Homo sapiens: one gene and its partner. The protein of the gene in region 2 purifies or fractionates together with the protein of the main gene of each other region. This does not show direct contact. Each region holds a gene or a part of one and is shown on either strand. Other genes may lie near its edges.

Evidence for each region.
Region 1: the proteins of TRMT10C (region 2) and ZZEF1 purify together in Homo sapiens (affinity purification with mass spectrometry; 3 studies listed by BioGRID and IntAct, with this or other methods). This does not show direct contact.

What each region holds. Positions count from the first base shown.
Region 1 is NC_000017.11:4,003,660-4,007,043, forward strand, and holds the end of ZZEF1 (zinc finger ZZ-type and EF-hand domain-containing protein 1), read right to left. Parts: intron 3,312-3,384; coding exon 3,231-3,311; 3' UTR 786-3,230; downstream 1-785. UniProt on the Homo sapiens protein: Histone H3 reader which may act as a transcriptional coactivator for KLF6 and KLF9 transcription factors.
Region 2 is NC_000003.12:101,557,850-101,565,113, reverse strand, and holds the start of TRMT10C (tRNA methyltransferase 10 homolog C precursor), read right to left. Parts: upstream 3,247-7,264; 5' UTR 3,111-3,246; intron 345-3,110; 5' UTR 333-344; coding exon 1-332. UniProt on the Homo sapiens protein: Mitochondrial tRNA N(1)-methyltransferase involved in mitochondrial tRNA maturation. Component of mitochondrial ribonuclease P, a complex composed of TRMT10C/MRPP1, HSD17B10/MRPP2 and PRORP/MRPP3, which cleaves tRNA molecules in their 5'-ends.

The DNA of each region.
Region 1 (3,384 bases), on a different chromosome or scaffold from region 2:
GCGGCACAGGCCTGGGAGCACCCAGTCCTGCTGAGTCTCAGGTTTCTCTCTGGGCTGAGGGATAGTGAGGGCTGAGGCTGGGTCCAGACCCTGCCTGGGGCTCCCCCGAAAGCAGTCTGGGGCTTTGGGGGATGTGTCAGACTCTGTCGGGCTGGAACAAATGGGCCTCAAAGGTTGGTTAAGTGCAGCCCCTGCCAAGAAGGCACGCTTCTGTAATTTGCCAGACAGTCCTCAGCCCCAGAATGCCTCTGGGAAGGAGACAGAGCAGCGCGTGGCAAAGCAGAGGCGGGGAGGAGGAGGAAGCGGGAGGCCCAGGTAAACCTCAGGCCACACTTGGGCCAGAGGCAGGGTCCAAAGGCCGGCGGGAAGGCAGCCAGTCCCAGGAAGGCAGCAGGCGCACTGCCTGGGGCCCTGCCTTCCTCCTCCGGGTTCCGCAGTGTCCTGCGGGCTACCAGAGAGGTCCACGGCGGGCGGTGGGGCCAGGGGAGCCTGGCCGAAGAGCAGAGGCCCCCACGGCGCCCTGTGTGTGGAAACCTCCGGATGGCCGCAGGGGGGTGGGGGGAGAACCAAAGCCCTGGGATCGCCGGGGGAGGGGCGGGGGCTTGGCTCGGGCTTGGGAGGAGGATGATCTGGAGGAAGGCCTACAGCAGCTTTCCATTCTTTCAGCCCTGAGCCCCCGAGTCTCCGCCTCGCATCCGTTCGGGCGCGGTGTAAACTCCACGCCTGAGCTCCACGAGACACGGCGGGGCGGAGGGAGGAGGGAGAGACCAGTCCACACACAGGCGTACCTTATTATATAGAATTTGTACAATATATTTCTTTTCGTTTGCATATTTTACCCACAGCTTAACATCCTTTTTACAGGCTGAACTCACTCAGGCTGATAGAATCAAAATTCTTTCAACCAAATAAGAAAAATTCAAAATCGTAAACCCGTAAGAAAACAAATTAAAAACGGTGATGAAAATACGTCACTCCTCTCGTTAGGAACAGTGTCTGTTTGTACAACAGGTATGCTCTGGAACAGGATTTCTTTACAGCGTAGGCACGTGTTTCCACCTTTGCTCTGCGGGCTTCGCCTCCTCCGGGCCTGGGGCTCCTGGAAAGCGCCGGGACGCGGCGGCTCTGGCTCGGCAGCGCCACCCGGTGGCCGGAGACAGAGGCGGCCGGGCCGAGCCGGGAGAGCAGCCGCGGGTGCGAGCGGACTCAGGCTTGTTTCCCGTGAACTGCAGCGAAGATCCCAGAACAGCAAGGGCAGTGGGCGGACAGGTGCTCTGGGGAGCCCAGCGTTTATTTACAGCTGATCTTCCTGACGGGAGGATGGAGTACAGCGGCGGCCACTGCCATAGGGGAGGTGACTCCGGCCCTACCGCCCGCTTTACTCGGAGTCTGGGGTGTGGAGGGGCGTGGGTGGCGCTATCTCGTCTACCTTCCAGGTTGGCTGTGAGTCTGAGCACGCAGCGGGGCCTCCCTCCCAAGCACTAAGACTTGTTTCCTGTGAGTCCCCTCTTGGGAAACTCCTTACTGGGAGGCCTCCTCGGGTCTGAGGGATGAAGAAGGTGGGGCCTTCTCTGGGGTGGTGCAGGCAGCTCCCAAAGCAAGGTAGGTTTGGCAAAGAGCAAAAGATGGGAAAAGGGTTTCTACGGAGCCAGCAGCACCTGCCTATTCAGGTCCCAAGCCACAGGAACCAGGCCAGGCCTTTCCACCAGGGCAATGGCCTCAGTCCTCAGGCCACCAAGTTCCAGGACCTGCCCCATGTGTTCCCGTCTCCCTTAAATCCCACCCTCCACCCGCCCCGGGATGGTTCTACCAGAACTCTGGGGCTTAGCTGAGAACCCAATTGTAGGGCTGTGAAGCCCGCTGCACCTTGGAGTCCTGACCCAGAAGGCGAAAGTGCTCTTATAGGAAGATGCTTCCAGACCTGCAGACTTGGGCCCTTGCAATCCAGATCCCTGCAGACCCTGCACAGAGGGATCTTCAGAGGCCACGGGGCACACTGGGCCATGGCAATGCTGACCTGGTCAAGCTTGGCCTTGGTGGTGGGGCCCCTTCTCTGGCTCTGGCACTGTGTGGTGGGACGTGCTTCGGCCCAGACACTGCCCCTAAAGGCATGCTCCAACCCCACGGGTCCCACTAAGGCCGGCACGCAGCCCACACGCCAGACTTGCTTCATGTTCCCAAGCGTGGCTCTGGAGGGAGAATCATCATCGGCACTCCAGGGCAAGACTAAACCCATCAAAAGAAAAATGTAAAACAGCACTGACTAGAACTAATGTCGTTATTGCTACAAGTGACAGCCAAACAGCCACGCAGAGTCCCAGAGGTGGGTATGACAGACTACCATGACTATCAAGCAGAAATAAAATTATGTGGGTTTTTACTCTTAAAATAAGATATCCTCTGATCATCTTCACGGTACATAAGCTCACGCGTGCTCCTCACATTCTGCTCCTTTCACAGAATGGTCAGTCCCCGGTCATGCCCTCGAGCCCCTCCAGGGAGACAGTGTGGTTCTGCTCTAAAAACGTGAGGTGGAAACTGAAATATGTCAAAACAACAACTGAGGAACTGCGGCTGTGCTGCCTGGTGCATGAGCAGACGTACAGGGGCGCCTGCCGGCTGTCCCCAAGGGCACTTGTTCTCCTCAAGGAGTTCTCTGGGAGGGTGCGGCCGTGCAGGGAGCTAGCTCGATGCCTGGTTCTGTACTGGATGCTTGGGGATCACTGGTGGCTAGGAGGGGCTCTCGCCAGTTTTGGTTTGGTGTGAAAAGCAAAGAGGTGCTCCCAGGCTGGGCAGCCACTGGGGGTCTTGCTGGAAAGGTGGATCTGGGTGGACTGTGCCTCCCTCTGAAGGCAAGTGCAGGCAGTTCCAGCTCCACGGAGACAGAAACCAGTTGAGAGAGGCCGCTTCCAAGTCTTCCCAGGCCCACGGCTCCTGCAGTGACAGCCTCTGGAGAAGGCTGGTCTCTGAACCTTCTTAAGGGCCCCCTGCCCACCCTTTCTGAGGCATTCTGCACTGCTTGGCTTATTTTCACCATGCTACAGCCTGTGCTTGTGTCCAGCCTACGCACGGGAGCTCTTGGAGACGTGGCTGCTTGGCATCCTAACTGGAGTGGTCAGCTCAAGGAGAGCTGGGCACTGGCGCTACAGGAGTTTTCCTGAATGAGGTTAGATGTCTGCTCTAAAATCCCTGTGGCAGATGAACTAGTCCCATGCACGCCCCACCAAGGGCTAACACTCCACATTCCAGAGGCGGGTGGCCTTGTTTGGGTAGTTGATGGCCAGGCTGATGGCAGCAATGTTCTGCAGAGCCTGTAGAGGGAAAAAGAGTTGTCGCCAATGTCGGGAGCCACTCCCTCATTCAGTGAGTGCTGATAAGACCCTC
Region 2 (7,264 bases):
TGTTCTGGTACTTCTCTGCCAAGCAATCTCCACATCTCAATGAACTCTCTGGTGGCAGCTAGAGGATCTTCATCCTTACTGCTTGAGATTGTTGAAACACATTCTTCTTGCACACTAGATTTCATGGTAGTTTTCCACTTATCCAACTCTAGCTCTTCAGAAGGGGGTGTACTCTCATTTTTAGGATAAGTAACAGCTGGTATTTTGGAAGACATGTATCTCTGCAAAATTGTTAAGTTATTTCTCTTCCTATGAAGGGTAAATGGCACCAAAAACCTGGTGAAAGGTCTGAAGAAATTGACACTAACACTCATTTTGAGGAAAGCAGCCATGTAACAAAACCCCTGTAAAAGAAGAAAAATGCAATTAAAAATTAGACAAAGATTTTTATAACTTCTCAACTAATTGTGCAAGTATAAATTTGAAATAGCAAAATAAAATCAATTTTTGAAACACAAGGTAAAATCTTTGTACCAATTTTTTTCCTAGACTCCTGTGGTCTACAGCCTGTGATCACTCATTGAGTAAAAAGTTTAAAACTTAGTTGGGTTCTTGGCCGGGCGCAGTGGCTCATGCCTGTAATCCCAGCACTTTGGGAGCCTGAGGTGGGTGGATCACCTGAGGTCAGGAGTTCAAGACTAGCCTGGCCAACATGGTGAGAAACCCCATCTCTACCAAAAATACAAAAATTAGCCAGGTATGGTGGCAAGCACCTGTAATCCCAGCTTCTCGGGAGGCTGAGGCAGGAGAATTGCTTGAACCCGGGAGTTGGAGGTTGCAGTGAGGCGAGATTGTGCCACTGCACTCCAGCCTGGGTGACAGAGTGAGATTCTGTCTCAAAAAAAAAAAAAAAAAAAGTTGGGTTCTTATTTTAGACATGAATTTCACTATTGCTTTAGCTAAAAGGATAAGTTGAAGATCCTTTTTAGATTTTTATCTAGGGGCCCAGAGAATCAATGTTACTGGGCAACAAAGTTATGTACCACCGAGGCAGCTGACATCATGATGCTGCATACTCCTCCATTCTACACTAAGCCCAGATACAGAACCAAACATAAGATCCTTCACAAAAGCAACAAATAAAGACAAAGGACATGAAAGGTACTGAGAATGGCAACAGGTAAAAAGCACTTAGAAACTGCTGTACCAATGCCCTCGTTACAGAAATATACCAAGATCTACTGATCAAAAAATAGCAACAAATTCTTCCCCAGTTCAGGCTTTATTTTGCAGCAAATAATGTTATTAACAAAGAAAATGTCCAAGATTGAGACAAATGTATATAAATGTATATAAAGCTCCACAGTTTTATCCTAAAAGCCTGGATGTCCATGAGATATTGAAGATGCTTAAAGATGTAAAACTTGTCTCAAATTTGAAGGAAAAGAAATAAAGGGAATTCAAATTTTTACAAAATGCAAATAAAACACTTGAAAAATTCCTTCTTCCCTTGGCTTCATTTAATGACCCTGCACAGGCTCCTAGGTTTCCTGCTCTCTGACCTGTGCACTGATGTCCAGATGCCCCTCCCTTAAAGGTGGATGTAACTCCGCATTCTATCCTATTCTTTTTTTTCAATCTATACATTTCCCTTCTGAGATGTGACCTACTTCTGTGGCTTCAATGACCATGCATTAGAAAGACATCTCAAATGCAGGCCGGGTGCAGTGGCTCACTCCTGTAATCCCAGCACTTTGGAAGGCCGAGGAGGGAGGATCGCTTGAGGTCAGGAGTTTGAGACCAGCCTGACCAACATGGCGAAACCCTGTCTCTACTAAAAATACAAAAATTAGCCAGGTGTGGTGGCGCATGCCTGTAATCCCAGGTACTCGTGAGGCTGAAGTGGGGCGATTCTTCTACTTCCCAGGTACTCGTGAGGCTGATGTAGAAGAATCGCTTGAATAAGGGGGGCGGAAGTTGCAGTGAGCCGAGATTTTGCAACAAAATCTGTTGCAGTGAGCGACAGAGTAAGACTGTCTCAAAACAACAAAAACAAACAAAAAACACCTCAAACGCAACAAATCGAAATAACCCCTCTACCTTTGCTTCACAATCTGATCCTCCTTCAATGTTCTGTTTCAAGGGATATTGCTATCCATTGGTATTGTTCCCAACATATATTTCTAAGCTTATTGCGGCCAGGTCAGCAGCATCTCTAGCTATTCTTCACCTCACACTTCAAGTATTCCACCATTACTTTTCACAGCACTCTGGTGCCTATGACAGTACTTCTAACACTGCACTGTAATTGCCTGGTTATCTATTTGCCTCACTAGATGGTAAGGACTAACTAGTGTCCATGAGGACAAGGACTTTGTCTATAATGTTAACATTGAATCCAATGCTTGACAGTATTTGGCTCACAGTAATCACGCAAATATTTTTCTAATACCCTAGATCGATGCTTCCTTCATTAAAAAAAAAAAAAAGAAAAAAAAAGTTCAGCCTCCCTTTATTATTTTTTTTGAGACGGAGTCTCGCTCTGTCACTCCAGGCTGGAGTATAGTGGCGCGATCTCGGCGCAAGCTCCGCCTCCCAGGGTTCACGCCATTCTCCTGCCTCAGCCTCCCGAGTAGCTGGGACTACAGGCACCCGCCACCACGCCCGGCTATTTTGTATTTTTAGTACAGACGGGGTTTCACTGTGTTAGCCAGGATGGTCTCGGATCTCCTGACCTCGTGATCCGCCCACCTCGGCCTCTCATTGTGCTGGGATTACAGGCGTGAGCCACCGCGCCCGGCTCAGCCTCCCTTTAAAGAGAAAACAATTTACTTTAGAATCCCGGAAATATTTAACTGGGGTCCCCAGGCCCCAATCTAATAAACATTGATTTCAGAAGGAGTTTTAAAAGTTTTATTCTTGTAACTGGCAAGGACTTAGAATACCACAGAAATGAAAACCCCAATTGTAAAAAGCAATCAAGTACATCATTTCAGGAACCACTGATTTTGTTTCAGGTACTGTACTAGTTATAGTTTATTAAAATCACTGGGCTTCCTCTTACCCGTGGGCCTTCCGAACGCACATGCTCCACTAAGTGCATCTTGGAACGTCTCCGGCGTCCTCCCACCCCCAACACACACATTAGGCGAAAGAAGAAACTCGCTTACCAGGAGTGCAGAGATAGTGGTTCCCGCTGGCGCAAAGAACAGGGACCCTGGAGGACGAAGGACTCCGACGTACGGACGCCCAGGGATCCGCGCCGAAGCTAGCACGCAGCCTACCCAACAGTCTACACAGCCGACCAGAGCGGTCGCTGGGGCTCAGCCGGAAGTTCCGCCCTCTCCCTTCCGGCGCTGCTTTTTACGTCACAGCACGCAAAGAACGCTTTCTTGGCTAAAAGAAGCGCCTTAGAGGAGACGGCTGTCAGTAGGCAACTGGGTACTCGAAGACTACGCTCTCAGTTGTCACGGAGTTGTAGCTGTGTTGTGTTGTGTTTTCCTCCATATATCCTAAAAACTTCTTCTGGGCCGGGCCAGTTGGCTTACGCCTGTTATCCCAGTGCTTTGGGCGGCCGAGGCGGGCGGATCACTTGGGGTCAGGAGTTTGAGACCAGCCTGGCCAACATAGTGAAACCCCGTCTCTACTAAAAATACAAAAATTAGCCAGGTGTGGTGGCGCGCGCCTGTAATCCCAGTTGCTCGGGAGGCTGAGGCAGGAGAATCGCTTGAACCTGGGAGGCGGAGGTTGCGGTGAGCTGAGATCGCGCCACTGCACTCCAGCCTGGGCGACAGAGCAAGACTCTCTGTCTCAAAAAAAAAAAAAAAAAAAAAAAAAAACTGTTTCTAATCCTCTTTTCAACCTACTCTCTGTTTGGGCCCTGTATTTATAAACATTTGCTGACAGAGTACTAAAATAAAGTATGTTTTTTTCACACGTCTTCTTACTCAGCTTCAAACTCCTTGACGCTAGGACTTTAAACTCCTAATCTTTTTGACCAGTTTATCACCAGTACCTGGCACTATGCTTGGAACGTGATAAGCCACGGTAAGTTTCTGTCTCCTCCTAGCTCATTTGGAAAGTTTAATGTGAAATGAAATTAAAACACATTTGTAAATTGGTGGCCTTTGGGGCCAATTCAGCCTCCACATATATTTGTAACCAAACACAGAATGAACATATTCTGCAGCCATTCTACTCCTAGTAATATACCCAAAGAAATTGAAAGCAGAGACACAAACAGACACTTGTACTCTAATGTCATTGTAGCATTATTGATAATAACCAAAAGGTGGAAGCAACCCAAATATCCATGAACAGATGAATAGATTAAAAAATGTTGCATGTACATACAATGGAATATTATTCAGTCTTAAAAAGGAATGAAGTTCTGATACATGGTACAACATGGATAAACTTTGGAGGCATTATACACTGAGATAAGCCAGGCACAAAAGGACAAATATTGTATAAGTCCACCTATATGAAGTGCCTAGAATAGTCAAATCATAAAGAAAGAAAGTAGAATAGTGTTTACCAGGGGCTGGGGAAAGGGAAGAATGGGCAGTTACTGTTTAATAGGTATGAATTTTCAGTATGGGATGATGAAAAAGTTCTGGAGATGGATAGTAGTGATGGTTGTACAAGAACGTGAATGTACTTAATGCCATTGAACTGTACACTTGAAAATGACTAAAATGGAAATGTTTATATTGTATATAGTTTACTAAAATAAAAGAAGGTAGGCATAGTCTTTTCCAAATGATTTTAAAAAACGAGATCTTGTCTAAGAGACTGATTACTATCATGTTAGAAAGGTGAGGTGGTGATAGCAAAATAATCATGAGTTTACTCCCAAACATGGAAAAAAATCAAGAATAAATATCGTCTAGTAGTTATAACAAATAGCAGTGTAGAGGTTATTTTTTCTTGTTCCTGTTCTTTAAAGAGATACATCTGAAGTTTTTCCATTAATATTTTATGAAGGTTTTTGCTATATGATCTTTGTCAAGTAAAGGAAATTTCATTCTGTTAAGTTTACTAAGATTCTTTATGTGAAAAATCTTTGGAAGTGTTTCTATAAATATAGCAGAACATAATTTATTCAATATGTCTGGGATCTGACCTATTCTAGATTAAGAATATTTCCAGGTTTCAGACATCTTACCTCCAACAAAAAGCACAGTGATTTTCAAAATACGTTTTTTTGTTTTTTTTTTTTGAGACGGAGTCTCGCTCTTTCACCCAGGCCAGAGTGCAGTGGCGCGATCTCGGCTCATTGCAAGCTCCGCCTCCCGGGTTTACGCCATTCTCCTGCCTCAGCCCCCGAGTGGCTGGGACTACAGGCGCCCGCCACCGCGCCCGGCTAATTTTTTGTATTTTTAGTAGAGACAGGGTTTCACCGTGTTAGCCAGGATGGTCTCGATCTCCTGACCTCGTGATCCGCCCGCCTCGGACTCCCACAGTGCTGGGATTACAGGCGTGAGCCACCGCGCCCGGCCTCAAAATACATGTTTTGGCATAGAAAAATAGCTTGTAATATGGGATGTAAGGTATCAAAAAAATAAAAAATAAATTGTAGGCCAGGAGCAGTGGCTCATGCCTATAATCAGCATTTTGGGAGGCCAAGGCAGGCAGATTGCTTGGGCTCAAGAGTTCCAGACCAGCCTGGCCAACGTGGTGAAACCCTCTCTCTACAAAAAATACACAAAAAAAGAAAAGAAAAAGAAATAAATTTTAAAAGCAAGGAAATATATAAAAACCCATAAGACAATGTCACATAAACACTAGAATTGAAAAACTAGAAGGTCTGAATGCTCTCTCTTGGCTCATATTTCTTCTTGGAAACAATGGTTAGACCTAAATAAAGGCTGTTTTGTAGTCAAGGCACCCACTCTCCAGTTCCCCAGAGCTTATTCCACCACATGTTATCTTTTCTACACTGGTGCAAATGTCATTTGCCATGTATTTTGCCTGCACTGTTTATTATATAATAGAGAACGATTTCTCTATACCAACGTCTCTTTCAAGAGTTGGAAGACAAAGCATGGATTCAAAGATTTAGGTGTTACTTACAAAGTAGAGAACTCTTGTATTTGATTCTCTGCTCTACCTTCAATGTCTACAACAGTGCTTGGCAAGTATCGGAAACTCAATAATAATTTGCTGATGAATGAATACTAAATAGATCAGGTAAGTGATGTTAGTGGCTTGGACAACAGTGGTGGCAGTAAAGGCAAAGAAAAGGGGGAATATTTGAAAGATATTTAAGAGCTGGACATGACAGAATTTGGTGATCAATTTGGGAGAGAAGGAGAGGAACAAGTCAATAGTCTGGTTTGAGCACCTGGGCAGACAGTGAAAAGGAGTATATGGTGTGAGGGCAGAGATGGTAAGTATAGTGTTAGACATGCGGCTTTTCATCTCTCTTCAAAATAGCCAAATGATATCTCCTTTAGGATATTTGGCAGTTGGCTGTATGGGTCTAGAGTTTAGGTGAAAGAAGAATGCACCAAAGATACATATTTGAGAGTTATTAACATAGAGTCTGTGAAACCATATGGGTGGAAGAGATTACCTAGGGCTTGGGTAGAGAACAGGAATGGACAAAAGAAACTGAAAATAAGCAGCTAAAGAGATGGGAGGAAAACAACCAGAATATGACATAGAAATCAAGGAAAAGGTGTTTTCAAAGACAAGTGGATGGGTAACAGGGTCAAATATTGCCTAGAGATCATGCAATGCAGACTGAAAAGTATCTACTAGATTTAGCAATACAAGGGCCACTGGGACCTTCATTGTGAGGTTTGGGGGCTTTAGCCAGATGAGAGTGAATAAGGAATGAGGAGATTATGAGAAAATAGAATCAGCAAGTTTAAACATTTCTATGAAATTTGTCTAAAGAAAAGACAGCGTGCTCAGTCCCTGGATGTGGAGTCCAGGAAAATTTTCTTCATTATTATTATGTTAGATTGGGAGAGGCCTGACATTTTAAATGCTGTTAGAATCATCAGCAAAGGGGTAAGAGAAAGAAAGGATAATGGGATGGGTAGACTTCCTGAGAAGATTAACAGAGATGGTATATAGAGGAGAGATGCTATTTAGAGGAGAGATGGAGAGATTGGTTTCGTATAAGAGGAAGAAATACCACTTTCATTGTAACAAGAAGAAAGGAAGAAACTTAAGGTGGGTATGGAGGACAATTTATAGACATGATGGCTATAATTTGATACAGTTCGCATTCTCTGTGAAAGAGGTAGACAGACTACCTCTGCGGATACTAAAGATTGGGTGAAGGTTTGTTATTGTCATAAAGAATAACATA